Regions from separate parts of the Homo sapiens genome. Here region 1 is reported to be linked to region 2. Evidence: microRNA targets listed by miRTarBase, many of them from high-throughput screens and not tested one by one. Region 2 holds a microRNA gene; the other region holds the end of a gene's coding sequence.

Region 1 (10,674 bases), not on the chromosome of region 2:
ATTGTTTAAAGCAAGCTTGTCCAACCCACAGCCCGTGGGCCACATGTGGCCTGGAATGACTTTGAATGTGGCCCAACACAAATTCATAAACTTTCTTAAAACATTATGAGATTTTTTTGCAATTTTTAAAGTCATCAGCTATTGTTAGTGTTAGTGTGTTTTATGTGTGGCCCAAGACAATTCTTCTTCTTCTGATGTGGCCCAGGGAAGCCAAAAGATTGGACACCCCTGGTTTAAAGGATGTTGGGTGAGTGCCTTCAAATAAAGACTAATTACCGGATGGCACATCACAAACCAGTTATGCCAAATCAAGCTCATTGTACTCTTTGATAGTGTCACCAAGCTGATAGCTCAAGAAGGGGCCATAGGCTTAATGTATCCTATTTTCAAGAAGGCATCTGGAAAATTTGTCATAAAATCTTTATTAGTTAGAGTTCTCTAGAGAAACAGAACAAATAGGATGGATACATAGATAGATAAATTTATTATAAGAAATTGGCTCACACAATTATGGAAAGTGACAAGTCCCAAAATCTGCAGGGTGTAGTTCCAGTCTGAAGGCCTGAAACCCAGGAGAACCAGTGATGTGGTTCTAATCTGAAAGCTGGTAGCCTCAAGACCAAGGAATAGCCAATGTCTCAGGTTGAGTTCGAAGGCAAGAAAAAGCCAATGTCCCTGTTTGAAGGCAGTCAGGTAGAAGAAATTATCTTACTCAGGGGAGGGTTATCCTTTTTGTTCTATTAAGGCTTTCAACTACTTGGATGAGACTCACCCACATTAGGGAGGGCAATGTGCTTTACTCAGTCTACCTTTCCAAATGTTAGTCTCATTTAAAGTCACTGCCACAGACATATCCAGAACCAAATTTGTTTGACCAGATATCTGGGCACCCCATGGTCCAGTCAAGTTGTCACACGATAACACATTAGTCAACATAATATCATTGTGGACAAGACATAGAAATAAGAGCTAGATAAAAATACAGTCTAGAATTTGTGGACCATAACTGAGGAGTTTGTTAATGGACCAGTGTCAATCTGTCAGTCCATTTCAGTGTAATGCCTGTGTGTTTTAGCTAAATTTTACACTCTCTAACACTAGGTGCCTAAAAAAAGAAAAAGGCTTATTTATTTTATGTGAATATTCTTTCCATTAGGAAAGAGATGGCCTACAGGGAGATAGTGTTCATTGTTTTTCCTGTACTGAGGTTTGTCTATTCAGATTTCTATATTTCCCATTCTAGAGAAAGCTGTAGTAGAATGGGATCTTGGTGTCCTCCTCACAGAGTATATATGATTCAAACCCTTTACAACACTCCTTCCTATGGAAATGTGTATAGTTAAGTGACAAAAGGACAGAATAGTACAGTATCATTTGTTTAAAAATATAAACTTACAGCCAGGCCTGGTGGCTCACACCTGTAATCCCAGCACTTTGGGAGGCTGAGGCGGGCGGATCACCTGAGGTCGTGAGTTCGAGACCAGCCTGACCAACATGGTGAAACCCCGTCTCTACTAAAAATACAAAAATTAGCCACGCGTGGTGGCCAGTGCCTGTAGTCCCAGCTACACGGGAGGCTGAGGCAGGAGAATTGCTTGAACCTGGGAGGCGCAGGTTGCAGTGAGCCGAGATCGTGCCACTGCACTCTAGCCTGGGCAACAGAACGTGACTCTGTCTCAAAAAAAAAATTATATATATATATGTGTGTGTGTGTGTGTGTGTGTGTGTGTGTGTATATAATATATAAATTTATATATTTGTACAAGTGTAGAATATTGTGAGCCTTGCTGGCAGGGAATCTGGAAGGCAAAGGGGTGCTGAAGTGAGAAGTCATCACTATTTGGATTTCTTTTATGCAATATTCGTGAATTAACTTCTTATTCATTAGCATTACATAAAATAAAATGGAGAAACATTTTTGGAATTTCAGAAATTAGCATTTTATCAAATAAATAGTAGGCCGGGTGCGGTGGCTCACGCCTGCAATCCCAGCACTTTGGGAGGCCGAGGTGGGTGGATCACGAGGTCAGGAGATCGAGCCCATCCTGGCTAACACGCTGAAACCCCGTCTCTACTAAAAATACAAAAAATTAGCCGGGCGTGGTGGCGGGCGCCTGTAGTCCCAGCTACTCAGGAGGCTGAGGCAGGAGAATGGCGTGAACCCGGGAGGCGGAGCTTGCAGTGAGCGGAGATCGCGCCACTGCACTCCAGCCTGGGCGACAGAGCAAGACTCTGTCTCAAAAAAAATTAAAAAATAACAAAATAAATAGTAACAGAGAGAGAAAAAAGTAGGGAAGATAAAAGTAAAGAAAGGTGGGGAAAGAAGGGAGAGAAGAAGAAAAGGAAAGAAATGTAAAGGATGGGAGAGTGGGAGGGGGAAGGGAAAGGATGGAAAGAGGGAGAGAGAGAAAGAGAATGAATGAAAAGAATGAAGGGAGAGAGAAACAAAAAGGAAGGAAGGAAGGAATGAGAAAGAAAGAGGAAAGAAAGAAAGAGAGAGAGAAAGAAAGAGGAAAAAAGAAGAGGAAGGGAGAAGGAGGGGAGAAACACAATTTCCTAATTTCCATTGCCTCTTCCTCCTAGACTAGATCTAAAGCTAGTTTCTCATTTGTCCCTCTCATAATGCTACTTCAGAAGTTACTTCATAATGTTACTTCAGAAGTAACAGGTTTCTGTCTTTAGGTTATTTCGTCCCAGGACAGGGCGGAGGAATAGGAGTCTAATTAACTTCAACTTCTCCACAAACTCAGAAGTATAATTAATAACACCTCTCTTTTTTCTTTCTTCTTTCTTTCTTTCTTTTTTTCTTTCTTTCTTTCTTTCTTTCTTTCTTTCTTTCTTTCTTTCTTTCTTTCTTTCTTTCTTCTTCCTTCCTTTCCTCTTTTCTTCATTTCTTTCTTTTTTTTTTCTTTCCAGAATGGCTAAATTTCTGAAGCTGGACCTCCATTCTTCCATGGTGGCAGAAAATTTCATTTCAGTTATTCTTGGTTTCTTCAATCCTCCCCAGGGTTGGTTCACAGTCCTAGAATGTCATACAGTGCCAGTGAAGGGCAAGGCAGGAGATTGTGGATGATCTTCAAGCCATAGACTATTGGTCATCAGTGGACACAGGTTACTACAGGTTACCAAGAAGCTCATTATTCTGTCTGCATGGCACCTTCTGGTCCTCAAGTGTCTCCTGCTTCTAGATTACAGAAGGAACCCAGTAATTTTTCAGGGTTTCCTATGATCCCATTCTCCACAGGTTGGTCCTCTCTGAATCCATGCCACCTCCGCAGAGGGAGGGGTGGGAGTCACAGCAGACTGTCAGTTCCAGGTTCCTGATTTTCTAGGACCCACAGGCCATGTTTTCTTCCTACAACCACCCAATTTACCTTACTTAAGAAAATAGTCTTGGCCGGGCGTGGTGGCTCACGTCCATAATCCTACCACTTTGGGAGGCCGAGGCGGGTGGATCGCCTGAGGCCAAGAGTTAGAGACCAGCCTGGCCAACATAGGGAAACCCTGTCTCGACTAAAAATTCAAAACATTAGTTAGCCGTGGTGGCACACACCTGTAATCCTGGCTACTTGGGAGACTGAGGCAAAAGAATCGCTTGAACCCGGGAGTCAGAGGTTGCTGTGAGCTGAGATCGCACCATTGCCCTCCAGCCTGGGCAACTAAAATGAGCAAGAGATAGAGTGAATTAAAGTATACAGAAAAAATATATATAGTGTTAGATGACAGGAGACAAAAAGAGAAGCAAACTATTTTATATATAAACAAACATGGATTTATCCATCTTAAATAAAGAGAATTAGTGCTAGAGAGGCAAAGTTCTGACAATTAAGAGTCACAAATGCTTTTGCTACTGTCTGTGTTGGAAAGAATAATTCTACCTTCCCCCTTTGCAAATGTCTACGTCCTAATCCGCGGAGCCTGTGAAACTGTTAACTTACATGGCAAAAGGGACTTTGCAAGTATGACTAAATGAAGCATCTTGAGATGGGAAACTTATCCTCAATTATTCGGGTGAGCCCAGTTGTAATTACAAGGGTCCTTATAAAAGGTAGGCAGAAGAATCAGAGTCAGAGAAGGAGATGTGAGGATGGAAGCAGAGATCAAAGTCCAGAGCCAAGGAATGCTGCCAGCCTCTGGAAGCTGGAAAGAGCAAGGAAACTCACTTATTCCTAGAGACTCCAGAAGGAAGGCAGCCCTGCCCATAACTTCATTTTAGCCCAGTGAGAATGACTTTGAACCTCTGATCTCTGGAAATGTAAGATAATAAACTTTTGTTGTTTCAAGCCACTAAACTCTATTAATTTGTCACAATAGCAATTTAAAAACCGAATATCCTGCCTATTCATACACTCATTCAGTTCCAGTTACAGCCATCGACTTGCAGTTTCCTGTTGCACCAAACCCTCTCATACTTCTACCTGAACGCTTCTCCTACCCATTTGCTTAGATCTGATCTTGTTCTTCAAGAGTTATTTAAACCATCACTTCCCCCCTTGGAAGCTTTTCTTACATTGGGCTCCCCAACTGTCTAGAACTCCCTACCATGTCTCCTTTTCAGCACTCACTACACTTGAGTTGCAATAATTGATCATCTTATTCCTGTTTGTATCACTTTGCCAAGTTCTTGCCTAATAAATGGCTTTGTTACTTCTTCCTTAGTTATCTTCCAGGTCTCCATGACAATATGGTAAGTTTTCAGAGAGCAGGGCCTACTCCTGTGTGTGTATACACACGTATGTCTTCCCTCCATATGCTTAATACACAGTGCTCCAACTCAAAAGTCAAAACAAAGCAAAACAAAAACACAACATCAAATAAATATTCATTGAAAAAAACTGATGCAGCCTACTTTGTAACAAATTATATCTTGGGAATCAACGGAAAATAACCATGCATTCTATTGTACCATTTATTAACCTGCTGTAATAAATTAGGCTCATTTATTTAGTTAGTTTATGCCTTGAGAAAACCTCAATAGCATTTTTTTTCTAGTCAGAATTATCTGGTTTTCATATTGATGGTCTTTTACTTCAATCACCAAATGCAGTAGCCAACATGACCAAAACATATTTATCCATTTAACAAATATGAAATGGTTGCCTACTGTGTGCAAGTAATGTTTAGGATGTGGAAAAGCATGTGGATAAATCAAAGTTCATGTTCTGGGCAGGAAGACATACAAATAAATAGTATATCAAGCAAAACACTAAAAAGGAAAGATGAGATAACATAAGAAATTAATGAGTTGACTCCACTCAGAGCAGAAAAAAAATCTTTAGTGAGACAAATAGAGTGGTGAACAGAAAAAGCAGGTGATAGTGGTTAAGAACCAGGGCTTTCAAGTTAAATAAAACTGAACTCAAAGCCAATTCCACTATTTACTGTGTGCCCTTGGACAAATTATTTAATTTCCCTGAGCCCAGCAGGCTCATCTGTAAAATGGGGATAATAATAGACATTCCACCTCATAAGATTATTATAAGAATTATGTAAGATAATTCTTGTAAAATTCTTAACATGGTGCTAGACACAGAGCAAGCAATTAGTATATTGCATTTATTATTGTGATAGTTTTGAAACAGTGAATAACATTTCTAATAATTATTTCAAAACCAGATTTCCTTACACAATAGCATATATTGTGAAAAAACATATATCCAAAATATATATATATATCCATTCACTCTACAAATACAAATACTGCTAAATGCAGAGGATTGCTCCACCCAGATTGCTCTTTCGGGGTGAGGAGCTCATTCCCCCAGTAGCTGCTTGGAATTTGGCTGCTGAAGACACAGTCGATTCCTACTTTGGGGATTGCCCTCCTCCACTGAACTGCCTAGGCTAAGGTTACACTCCGCTCCTGGTAGATGCTGGAGTATAAAAGCTGACCCTCTTGTTTCCATTTGTAACCATTTTGAAGGGTCACCCTAGCTCCAGGGGCTCCCTGTGAGATGGGCGGAAGCCTCTGTGGAAATCTCTTCTGCTTCCTTCACTCCATCACAGACATTGTTCCCAAGACCACTCCTCAAGGAACTTACCAATCTCCATCTCAGAGTCTGCCTTCCCAGCGAACCTGAATTAAGCCAAGTAACCACTATATGGACAACGCACTACTGTTAGGCAGGGTTGGCAAGCTTCTTCTGTCAAGGACCAGGCAGTAAGGGTTTTAGGCTTTGGTGAGCCATATTCTCTATCACTTTTACTCAACTCTGCCATTCTAGTGTGAAAGCAGCCAGAGACAACACATAAACAAATGGGCACTGCTGTGTTCCAATAAAACTTTATTTTATGGACACTGAATTTGAATTTTATATAATTTTCACCCATCACAAAATACTGTTCTTATTTTGCTTTTTTTTTTTCAACCATTTAAATATTGGAAAAATCATTCTTTGCTCGTGGGAGTTCAAAAGCAGGCAGCAGGCTAGATCTGGTCAATGGGCCATAGTTTGACAATCCCTGAGCCAGAGGAAAGATGCGATGCAGAGCAGTGAAGCTACTATTCTAGTGAATGAGTTTACAGAATTTGATATCATGGGACCCTACAGCTTGTAACCTTGTTCCAAGGACATGGAAGACCCCTTCCTGGCTCCAGGTCAAGAGGGCATGGAGAAAAGGAAGAGGTAAAAAAAGGGAAACAATAAGATTCATAATTTCTTTCTTTCTTTTTTTTTGAGACGGAGTTTCGCTCTTGTCGCCCAGGCTGGAGTGCAATGGTGCAATCTTGGCTCACTGCAACCTCCACCTCCTGGGTTCAAGCAATTCTCCTGCCTCAGCCTCCCAAGCAGATGGGATTACAGGCGCCTGCCACCATGCCCGGTTAATTTTTGTATTTTTAGTAGAGACAGGGTTTCGCCACGTTGGCCAGGCTGGTCTCAAACACCTGACCTCAGGTGATCCACCCACCTCGGCCTCCCAAAGTGCTGGGGTTACAGGCATGAGCCACCGCACCTGGTCTCATAATTTCTTTTGAAGCTTAGTACCAAGAAAATCAAACACAGCAAAATAACACTAAATGGTTTAGTGCTATGTGGTGTTTTTCATTTAGACAACTTCATCTCTACCAGGAAACAGATGTAGGAGATTTGAGTGGCTGTTTTGTGGCTGTGTCTGTAACTAAGAAACCATTCAAAAATAAAAACACAATTATAATTTGTTACAGTTTTAATATTTACAAACAATATACCTTTAAATGATCTGATACAGAATAGACAAAGGAGAGATAAACATATTTTGAAAACTGTTTGACCCTATCTTTCTACCCAAATATAGCAGCCTTCTACAGTCCATCTCCTTCAAAAAGAAACAAGTTGGATGAATTTATTTGGGTAACAAATATATTCTTAACTCTTTACCCTGAAACCTTTTGACTTTTTTTTTTTTTTTGAGACGGGAGTCTCACTCTTGTTGCCCAGGCTGGAGTGCAATGGAGCGACCTCGGCTCACTGCAACCTCTGCCTCTCAGGTTCAAGAGATTCTCCTGCCTCAGCCTCCCTAGTAGCTGGGATTACAGGTACCCACCACCATGTCCAGCTAATTTTTTGTATTTTTAGTAGAGATGGGGTTTCACCATATTGGCCAGGCCGGTCTCGAATTCCTGACGTCAGGTAATCCACCCACATCAGCCTCCGAAATGCTGGGATTACAGGCGTGAGCCACTACACCCGGCCACCTTTTGGCCTTTTTGTTTCATCTCATTTGACTGTCTTCTTTTTTAATTCCTATGTTTCTTCAAATGAATTAACCGTTTCTTTTTTGATCATTTTTATTTTTGCTTCCTTGCTGTACACACCTCTCTTTGAAATCATTCCTTATGGCTCCTCTTACCATATTCCTTCATCAAGTGTAATATTATGAGATTTCTCCATGATTCACACATGACTTCCAGCTGATCTTTACTTCTCTAGCCCTTAATTCCCCTTCACTAACCCCTCCTGCACATTCTCAGAATAAATGGATAAAGTGTTGCTTCATGTTTAAGTAAATGCGAGACAGTAATGGAAGCATCCTCTCTATGGATTTACATTGCTATACTGAGAAATATGGAGACTAGGAGTGCTAATTTCAGTAATTTCAGTTGACATCAATTGCAATAGGCGGCTAAAGACTATATCTCTGGCTTTTGAGGTCTCCAGATTCTTCTCTCTAGACACTTGAAGACTGATTTGGTCTACACTTGTCATGATGAGTTCAGACGCCAGAATCTGGGTAGGAGAACTGTCATGAAACACGGTGTCCATAATGTACTGTTTATATAACTCCACAACCTTCTGCTCCAGGTACTCATTCAGAACTGCATTAGAAATAGGATTCTGCATTTGCAAGCTGCTTTTCTCTTTGATGCTTGTTATTCTCCAATAGGATGAGTACCGCTGGATAGGTTTTTGGGGAAAGTCACTGGGCTGAGTAGAAATGGAATCCTCCATGGGTAAAGGAATCTCAGATGACTTCAGCAAAGGGCCATATTCAAAACTGCTCTCAGAGGGAAAATCTGTTGTCACTGAATTAATGGCCATCACCTGGCCCCCTGCAATCTGTAAGTCATTATAATTCTTGCAAATACTTTTGCAAGAAGATGGAACCAAGTAGGTCTCTCTGCTGGCATCTCTACATATTTCAACTGCAGCCAAGTTTGGGCTTTCAAACACAGGATTGGGGTTTGTCTGCAGCACTGTGACTCTCTGACTTCTGCTATGTTGGCTCTCTCTTGAATGCACTGAAGAGATAAACTTGCCAGATGATTTGCAGCTCACGTAGAGACTTCTGACTTGTGTTTCATCCACAGAGGAATAGGAAAGGGTAGCAACAGAATTTGTCTCCTCTTCCTTTTCCCCAGCCACCTGCTCATTATAAGAGGCACAACTCCAGTGGATGTCATTCCAGTACTCAAGTCCACTGAGATACCCTTCTGACAGCATTCTGGAAAGAGAATTGATGAGTAAGAATGGGGAAAAAGAATACTGAAATTTTAGAAGTTGGCACTTGATATATCAAAAAATAAGGACAATGAATAAATTCACTTTATTCATTCACCAAGCTCGTACTAATTCTGTGCCTACTGTGTACCAGGACTATGGCATGTGCTAAGGATATAAAAATGAAAAGCACACAATTCCATCCTTCAGGAAGTTTCCCACTATAGGAAAAAATCAACTAGATATAAACAATTCCAACATTGTATCACTGAGGATTATAATAGTGATAGGTAAAAAGGAAGTACAGGGGTGGGGGGGTCCCTAACTTAGCCTGGGGCAAAGGGGGAGAAGTCACAGGATGTGTCATAGGGAAGGTGATATTTCAGCTGAATGCTAAAGAGTAATTAGGAGTTCCAGCCATAGGAACAGGCTTATAAGATAATATGGTGGCATGACCTACTCACCACATACAAAGAAGCTGAGCACAAGCAGAAGGAATTGGGAAAATAGGCTGAAATTGGATCGTGAAGAGCCTTGGCAGTCAGGCAAAAGCATTTACATTCTGCCCCGTAGGAAATGAACAGTGATCTAGAAGTTGCAGATTGGAGAGAAACATGGCTAGTGGATTATGAGCAAAACAATGAGAAAATCTGTGGCAAATTCTACTGAAAACAAGTGCTGTGTCTTACTTAACTTTGTATTGGATCCCTAGGAGCTAGCACAGTTACTTGCATTTCTACAGAGACTCAAAAGGTATTTGTTAATTTGAGTTAAAGAATTTTCAACAATGACATGGTATGAAATTAATTTGTGCTCAACACATCATGAAGTACCACAAAGCCTACCCTGCCTTTGTATCCCAGAATAAATTTCCTTCTCTCTCCCTCCCAGTTCTCAGAATACATCCTGAAAATGTCTCTGTATCTAACTGATGTGTTTACCTCCTAGTTACCAAGGAGCTTTTCTGACCATAGACTTTCCCCACATCTGCCTCCCCTCCCTACCCCCAGCAATTGTCACTGGTCTAGAGTGGCTAGAACAGGCTAGAAACCAGCAGCTGCATTTTCTAAAAACAGAACACACTGGCATTCCCGGCACTGGGGCAAAAGGCAACAGCAAGGAAAACTGGTCCTCTTGGGCCTCGAGAGCTGGGCTTCTGAAACAGACCTGTCAACTTGAGCCTGAACTTGTAATGTCAAATAAGAAAAGAAGGATTTTTTTAACCATACATAAAGGTCCTTTTAAAAATTGTTAACATCTCTTTTACATTCATGTAATTATTGTTTCCCAGGTAAATAAAATGTTTCCCTTTTTTAAAAATTGTATAAGGGTAAGATAGTAATTTTTTTTTTCTCTTTTGGAACTATTCCTGGTTTATTTAGCAAATCTCAATTTTTTTAATGTTTACTATATTCTGGGCACAGTTATGTGCCATGAAGACACTAAGCTAAAGGTCTTCAACAAATCCATGAAGTAATTTCTGTATGCTGAACACACTTATAAGGATTAAAAAAAAAAAAAAAGTTGTCCTCTCCTTTAAAATCTATGTGAAGTTCTGCCCTCAAACCTAATATGCAGGTGAAAAGGCCAATCTTACCTACACGGAAAGATAAGAAACAGAGAAAGAGTTTATCATAAAGAACTAATGGGGATGCACTTACTTCCTGGCCCTCAACACCCTACCCCCACCTAGGCTTTAGCTAGGGCATTCTGCCTTCAAGTCCTCAGAATATCATTGTGGAAAATCAGAGCATAA
Region 2 (7,000 bases):
GTGTTTCAGAGGAGTGTCTTTCTCCTTGAGCACAGTGTTTATAGATAAGAGAGCAGGTTGCACTCAGAGCATGGGAACATAACGGCGATAAGAAGGCTTTCCTCCTCAGAGACCTCTTGTGGCTTTCCACAACTTATTGTCCCATATTTTTATGGCCAGTTTATGCAGGCACTCCATAAGCCTTTTCCCCAACAACAATTTGTAAACAAATGAGCATGGATGTGTTCCAGGGAAACTCATTACCAGTAAAGGTGGTGGATCAGACATGGCCCCCTCTCTGGGCCCTACTGTTCTGCAGGTTTTCAAAGATTACTTGGGAGATTTCTCTCCACCTGTTTGCTAAGACGTTCTGTGACTGATGTAATCCACAACCCATTTTCCCAGCCGTTTTCTGTTTTGTGCTTTTATTCTCTAGCTTTATAATTGTCTGGGGGGAAGGGCGTGATGGTGCCATATAAAAATAACAGTCAATAGCATCAGTTATAAGGAGGTAAGAGTCAGGAAGAGTAACTCTTTAATTAGCTGGTCTCAGGGTTAGTATAGGGCCTTGCACATGGTAAAGCTGAAAAACATTTAAGAAATGAATATTTAGGCACTCTTGGTACAGTAGTAGCATTATGGTCAGACAGACTGGCGCAATCCCTGTGAAGTCTGGTGGCCAGGGACAAGAGAAACCTCCATCAAGGTGTTGCAGCAGCTGTCATCAAAGGATTCACTCAGCCAATCTCTCTTGGCCTAAAGTTAGTCCTACAAAGGAAGGTTGGCAGTTTTGACTGCCTCTCAGAATTCTACAGCTGAGAAACACACACATACTCACATACACACACCTATACCCCTTGCAGCTTTCCTCCTGCTCTTGCCTCAGGTCCACTCACTGTCAGTGTTTCCTGAGATGAAAAGCCTTCCTTACACAGCCAGTATGGAGGAGAAACTAAAACCCCAGGGATCATAAGAACCCAGATCACAACAGATTTGCCGCTGTTATCTTTTTAATGGGAATTTAAGGTATTTGGTGATTCTAGAAGGTTAAAGTAACTAACTTGCTCAGTGATGAAATTTATTTCAATTCTCACAGGCATACCTTGGTCTCCTTTGCCAACCAGAACAAATCTATGATAGGAAGGAATGGTAAAACATTCAAGGTGATGTTACATACAGAGATGAATACCCTAAACTGCAAAGGAGAGGCATTGAAGGATTAAGGGATAAGTGGCCATAGACTGCTAACCCAGTCATCTTGTTGGAACCTCAGAAAATACCTGAGAGGCCAGGCACTGTGGCTCATGCCTGTAATCCCAGCCCTATAGGAGGCCGAAACCAAGGTGGGAGGATTGCTTGAGGCCAGGAGTTTAAGACCAGAGTAAGGAACATAGCAAGACCTTGTCTCAACTAAAACATAAAAAATTAGCTGGGCATGGTGGTGCATACCTGTAGTCCTAGCTACTCAGGAGGCTGAGGCAGGAGGCTCACTTGAGCCCAGAAGTTCAAGGTTGCAGTGAGCAATGATTGCAGCACTGTACTCCAGCCTGGGTAACAGAGCGAGACTCTGTCTCAAAAAAAAAAAAAGAAAAGAAAAAACCTGAAAGACCCTGCAAGCATTTGACTCAATCTTTCTGTCTGACCATTTGACCAAAGAAAGTACAGTCATGTACCACATAATGACTTTTTTGTCAGTGACAAATTGCATATACCATGATGGTCCCATAAAATTATAATGGAGCTGAAAATCTCTTATTGCCTAGAGACGTCACAGCATCATAGCATAACGCATTACTCATAATGTTTGTGGTGATGCTGGTATAAACAAACCTACTGCACTTCCAGTCATATAAAAATACAGCACAGGCTGGGCGCGGTGGCTCAAGCCTATAATCCCAGCACTTTGGGAGGCCAAGGTGGGTGGATCACCTGAGGTCAGGAGTTCGAGACCAGCCTGCCCAACATGGTGAAACCCCATCTCTACTAAAAATATAAAATTAGCTGTGTGTGGTGGTGCACGCCTGTAATCCCAGCAACTCGGGAGGCTGAGACAGAAGAATCGCTTAAACCCGGGAGGCGGAGGTTGCACTGAGTAGCTAGGACTACAGGTATGCACCACCATGCCCAGAGTGCAGAGAGACTCTATCTCCAAAAAAAAAAAAAAAAAAAAAAGCACATACAATTATGTACAGTACAGTACATAATACTTTCATATACAACTATATTACTGGTTTATGTATTTACTATACTATACTTTTTATCATTGTTTTAGAGTACATGCCTTCTATCTATTTAAACAAACATTAACTGCGCAACAGCCTGAGGTGGTTCCTTCAGGAGGTATTTCAGAAGAAGGCATTCTTATCATGAGTGTTATTACCCATGAAGACCTTCCAGTGGGACAAGATATGGAGGGGGAAGACAGTGATATTGATGATCCAGACCCAATGAAGGCCTAGGCTAATGCGTGTTTGTCTCAGTTTTTAACAAAAATGTTTGAAAAGTTAAAAAATAAAAATAGAAAAAAGCTTACAAAATTACGCTATAAAGAAAGAAAATATTTTTGTACAACTGTACAATGTATTTGTGTTTTAAGCCAAGTGTTATTAAGAAGGAATTTTTTTAAATTCTTGAAACAAATGAAGATGAAAACACAGCACACCAAAACCTATGGGATACAGCAAAAGCAGTACTAAGAGGGAAGTTTACAGCAATAAACACCTACATCAACAAGTAGAAAAACTTCATATAAACAACCTAATAATACATCGTAAAGAACTAGAAAAGCAACAGCAAACCAAACCCAAAATTAGTGGAAAAAAAGAAATAATAAAGATCAGAATAGAAACCAAAAAAACTATAGAAAAGAGGAATGAAATGAAAAGTTTTCTGAAACGATTAAAAAAATCAAGAAGCCTTTAGACAAAGAAAAAAAAGAGGAATGCTATTACAAAAGAGTCAAAATTTTTTAAAAAATAAAAAGTATATAAAGTTAAATTACAGTAAGCTAAGGTTAATTCATTATTGAAGAAATAAAAAAACTTTTTTATAAATTTAGTAGACTCTTAGTGTACAGTGTTTATAAAATTTACAGTAGTGTATAGTAATGTCCTAGGCCTTCACACTCACTCACTGACTCACCGGAGTGACTTCCAGTCTTCCAAGCTCCATTCATGGTAAGTACCCTAGATAGTGTACCATTTTTTAAATTATTTTAGACCATATTCTTACCATACCTTTCCTATGTGTAGATATGTTTATTATTTATTTATTTATTTATTTAGAGACAGGGTCTGGCTCTGCCACCCAGGCTGGAGTGCAGTGGCACCATCTCAGCTCACTGCAACCTCCGCTTCCTGGGCTCGAGCCAATCTCACACCTCAGCCTCCCGAGTAGCTGGGACTACAGACCCGTGCCACCATGCCCAGCTGATTTTTATATTTTTTTTGTAGAGACAGGATTTCACTATGTTGCCCAGGCAGGTCTCAAACTCCTGAGCTCAAGTGATTCACCCACCTCAGCCTCACAAAGTGCTAGGATTACAGGCATGAGCCCCCACACCTGGCTTTAGATATGTTTAGATACACAAATACCATTCTGTTCCAGTTGCCTACAGTTTTCAGTACAGTCATGGGCTGTACAGGTTTGTAGCCTAGGAGCAATAGGCTCTACCATATAGCCTAGGTGTATAGTAGGTTGTCCCATCTAGGTTCGTGTAAGTACACTTTATGATGTATGACAACAAAATCATGTAACATCACATTTCTCAGAATGTATCCTTGTCGCTAAGTGACATATGACTGTAATTTGTTGATATCCAGATTCTTAGAAGTCTGCTTCACAACCTAAGACAAGCTGTGGGAAATTCCAAGGGTATCTAAACTGAAAACCATGAGCATGAGCTCAGGGTAATGAATGCCTTCCTCAAGCCACAGTGTCTACCACCCAAATGTTTAGGAAATGCAGGGTGATCAGTGCTAAGTCTTGGCAAATATTGTGATTGTTTCTTAGTAGAAACCTACAATGGTAGTAGCAAACATATGGCTGCCATCCTGGGTCCTTGGCCTAAGTACAGATGTCACTAACTGACCTATTTTTTACATTCTGCATACAGTATATCACCTGAAGGCCAAGAAAATGAGCATGGTTTTGTGGAGATCACCTTCCCTGTATTGCCATAACAACATTCCTACTAGTTTGACAACTAGTAACCAGAGTGGCTCCATGAAGTAGAATGATACTCTAGGAAGCGACCATGATGTAACTTCAGACTTTTGGAGAGTCTGTGAAGTTACATCATGGTCGCTTCCTAGAGAATCATTCAGCCATTACACCAGTATTATGACAAAACTTATCAAATCTGACTCCCAGCCAACATGGAGTAATAGGGACTACGTATACCTTCCCACCTGAAACAACTTAAAAATAGAGCAACATATATCTGAAGCATTTTCCAAACATTAAACAAAGAGCAGTCCAGGCCAGTGATCCCTGAAAGGGGATGCAAATCAAATGCCCGGAGAGACCTGTGATTGACCTGCTTACTCCCTCAAGGGAGTTGCAGTGAGGGGAACACAGGCAGAGTCCAGCAGTCTCCATAAGTTGAAAAGATACAGCTGGAAATCTGAGGACACCAAAGAGACTAGTGTTCCTAGGGCAGAGTACAGAGAGGTGAGAGCTAGCCCAGAGGAACCCTTCCAGAGATGTGAAGTCTTCCACTGAGTACTGGATAGCACATGTATGTAAGTAAACTATTAATACTTGAGACTGGGAAAAGAACTAACCTAAAGGACAAAGGGGAAAACAAAGCAAAACAAAACAAAAAAAACAGGTCTCTGGAGCTTAAAAAAGACCAGGAAGAGTTTGTGTTCCACCAGTCAGAGTGGAAAACCTTACAATTCACAGGGCATCTGGTAGAGTACTCAGAAGAGCATTAGCTCAGTAGAGGAAAATAATTAGCCCTAGGCTAAAGGCTGCTGTGATCCCATTTAATAAAGCTTAAAAGCAAGCCTTTCTGAAAGAATTAAACTGCGTACAATAACTTGACAGTGTCTCAGATAACCCAACAAATGTTTTAGGATCCAATGTAAATTTACCAGGTACACAAAGAAACAGGAAAAGTTGACCCATAATGGGAAAAATCAGTTTATTGAAACCAGTTCAGAAATGACAGTGCTGATATACTAATAAAGTAGGTGTTTAAAAATCATTATACCTATATTCTATATGTTCAAGAAGTGAGAAGAAGGATTAACCATGTAATGTAGAAACATAGAAGATATTTTTAAAAACCCAAATCAAACTTTTAAAGATGAAAACTACAATGTGAGAGAGAAAAAATACATGACAAGGGATGAATAGCAGATTAGACATTACCAAAAATAATTGGTAAACTTGTTTTCAAAAACTGCAAAAAGAAATAGACAAATCCACAATTGTCATCCAAAATTTCAACACTTCAATCCTAAATATTAGTTTCAAAAATAGTAGACAGATTACAAATTAAAATGAGATGCCTCTACATACCTACCAAATGTCTAAAACCCAAAACACTGACAACACCCAGTGCTGGTGAGTGTGTGGAGCAACTGTAAGTCTCATTCGGTGCTGGTGGGAATGCAAAATGGTACAGCCACTTTGGAAGACACTTTGGCAGTTTCTTTTAAAACTTAACATACTGTTGCCATACAACCCAGCAATCGTGCCCCTTGGTATTTACCCAAATAAGATGAAAATCTATGTCCACACAAAAACCTGCACGCAGATATGTATAGGAGCTTTATTCATAATTGCCAAAACTTAGAAGCAACCAACATGTTCTTCAATAGGTGAATGGAAAAAAAACTATGGTATATTCAGACAATGGAATATTATTCAACACCAAAAAGAAATGAGCCATCAAGCCATGAAAATACATGGAAGAACCTTAAATGCATATAATATATAACTAAATGAAATAAGCCAACCTGAGATGGCATATGTATGATTTCAACTCTATGACATTCTAGAAAGGGCAAAACTATGCAAGCTATAAAAGAATAGTGAATTTGGGGCGGAGAGGGATGAATAGGTGGAACACAGAGGATTCTTAGGGCAGTGAAACTCTTCTGATACAGTATAGTCAGCCCTTTATATCACAGGTTCTGCATCTGTGGATTCAACCAACCATGAGCGAAAAATGTAGTTTGGCCTATGTAGCTTTTGTGCTGAACATATGCAGACTTTTTTTTCTTGTCATTGTCCCCTAAATGATACAGTATAACAACTACTTACATAGCCTATACAGTGTATTAGGTGTAAGTAATCTAGAGATTATTTAAAGTATACAGGAGGATATGTGTATTATATGCAAATACTACACCATTTTATATAAGGAACTTGAGCAGCCTCAGATTTTGGTGTCCTTGAGGGATCCTGGAACCAGTCCCCCAAGGGTACCAAGGGACGACAGTACTATAAAGGTGGGTACATGTCATTAAAAATTTGTCAAAACCCAAGAATACAGAGTAACAAGAGTGAACCCTAATGTAAACTATGGACATTGGGTGATAATGATATGTCAGCATAGATTTATCCATGGTGTGAGATTTTGATAGTAGGGGAAAAGCACATATGAGAACTCTGTACTTTCCACTCAGTTTGCTCTGAATCTAAAACTGCTTTGAAAAAAAGTCTGTTAAAAAATTAGTAGTCATTTTATGCCAATAAAAAGTAATTAATATTTTTTAATTAGTAGACAGAATATCAATAAGGATTTTAAAGACTTTAATACTATTAACCTATTTGTTCAAATTGTCCTAATAATTTGCCTTGTTTGTCCTAATGATTGTAGGTATGTACAAATTTAGTCGTTATATCTTTCTGGTGCATTTATCATTAGGTGGATACTTTCAGTGTCTCCGGGAGTGCTTTTGCTATAAGATCTACTTTGTCTAATATTAATGTAGTTGCATTTTTTTTCTTTTTTGACTTTTTAGATTCAGGAGGGTTGTATGCAGGTTTGTTAACTGAGTATATTATG

What was found. The annotated mature microRNA hsa-miR-4670-5p reads AAGCGACCAUGAUGUAACUUCA and lies in region 2 at 4,266-4,287, opposite strand. An mRNA with a match to its seed (bases 2 to 7 or 8) in the 3' UTR can be bound and repressed. Matches are read on the target gene's strand: a 7mer-m8 pairs with bases 2 to 8, a 7mer-A1 pairs with bases 2 to 7 and ends in A, and an 8mer does both.
Region 1: the mRNA of TASL is a reported target of hsa-miR-4670-5p. Seed matches in the 3' UTR shown: 7mer-m8 at 7,434-7,440.

Annotation. Positions count from the first base shown.
Region 1 is chrX:30,551,435-30,562,108 of GRCh38, forward strand. TASL (TLR adaptor interacting with endolysosomal SLC15A4) reads right to left here. Exons shown (of 3, transcript NM_025159.3): 3 at 7,375-8,922. The coding sequence starts at 8,921. The coding sequence ends at 8,016. Among named protein-coding and RNA genes, the nearest start is that of TASL, 21 kb to the right of the region's middle.
Region 2 is chr9:92,523,765-92,530,764 of GRCh38, forward strand. MIR4670 (microRNA 4670) reads right to left here and starts at 4,294; the gene lies at 4,220-4,294. The region is part of intron 5 of CENPP (centromere protein P); the gene reads left to right. All of the region lies in intron 1 of ECM2 (extracellular matrix protein 2), which reads right to left.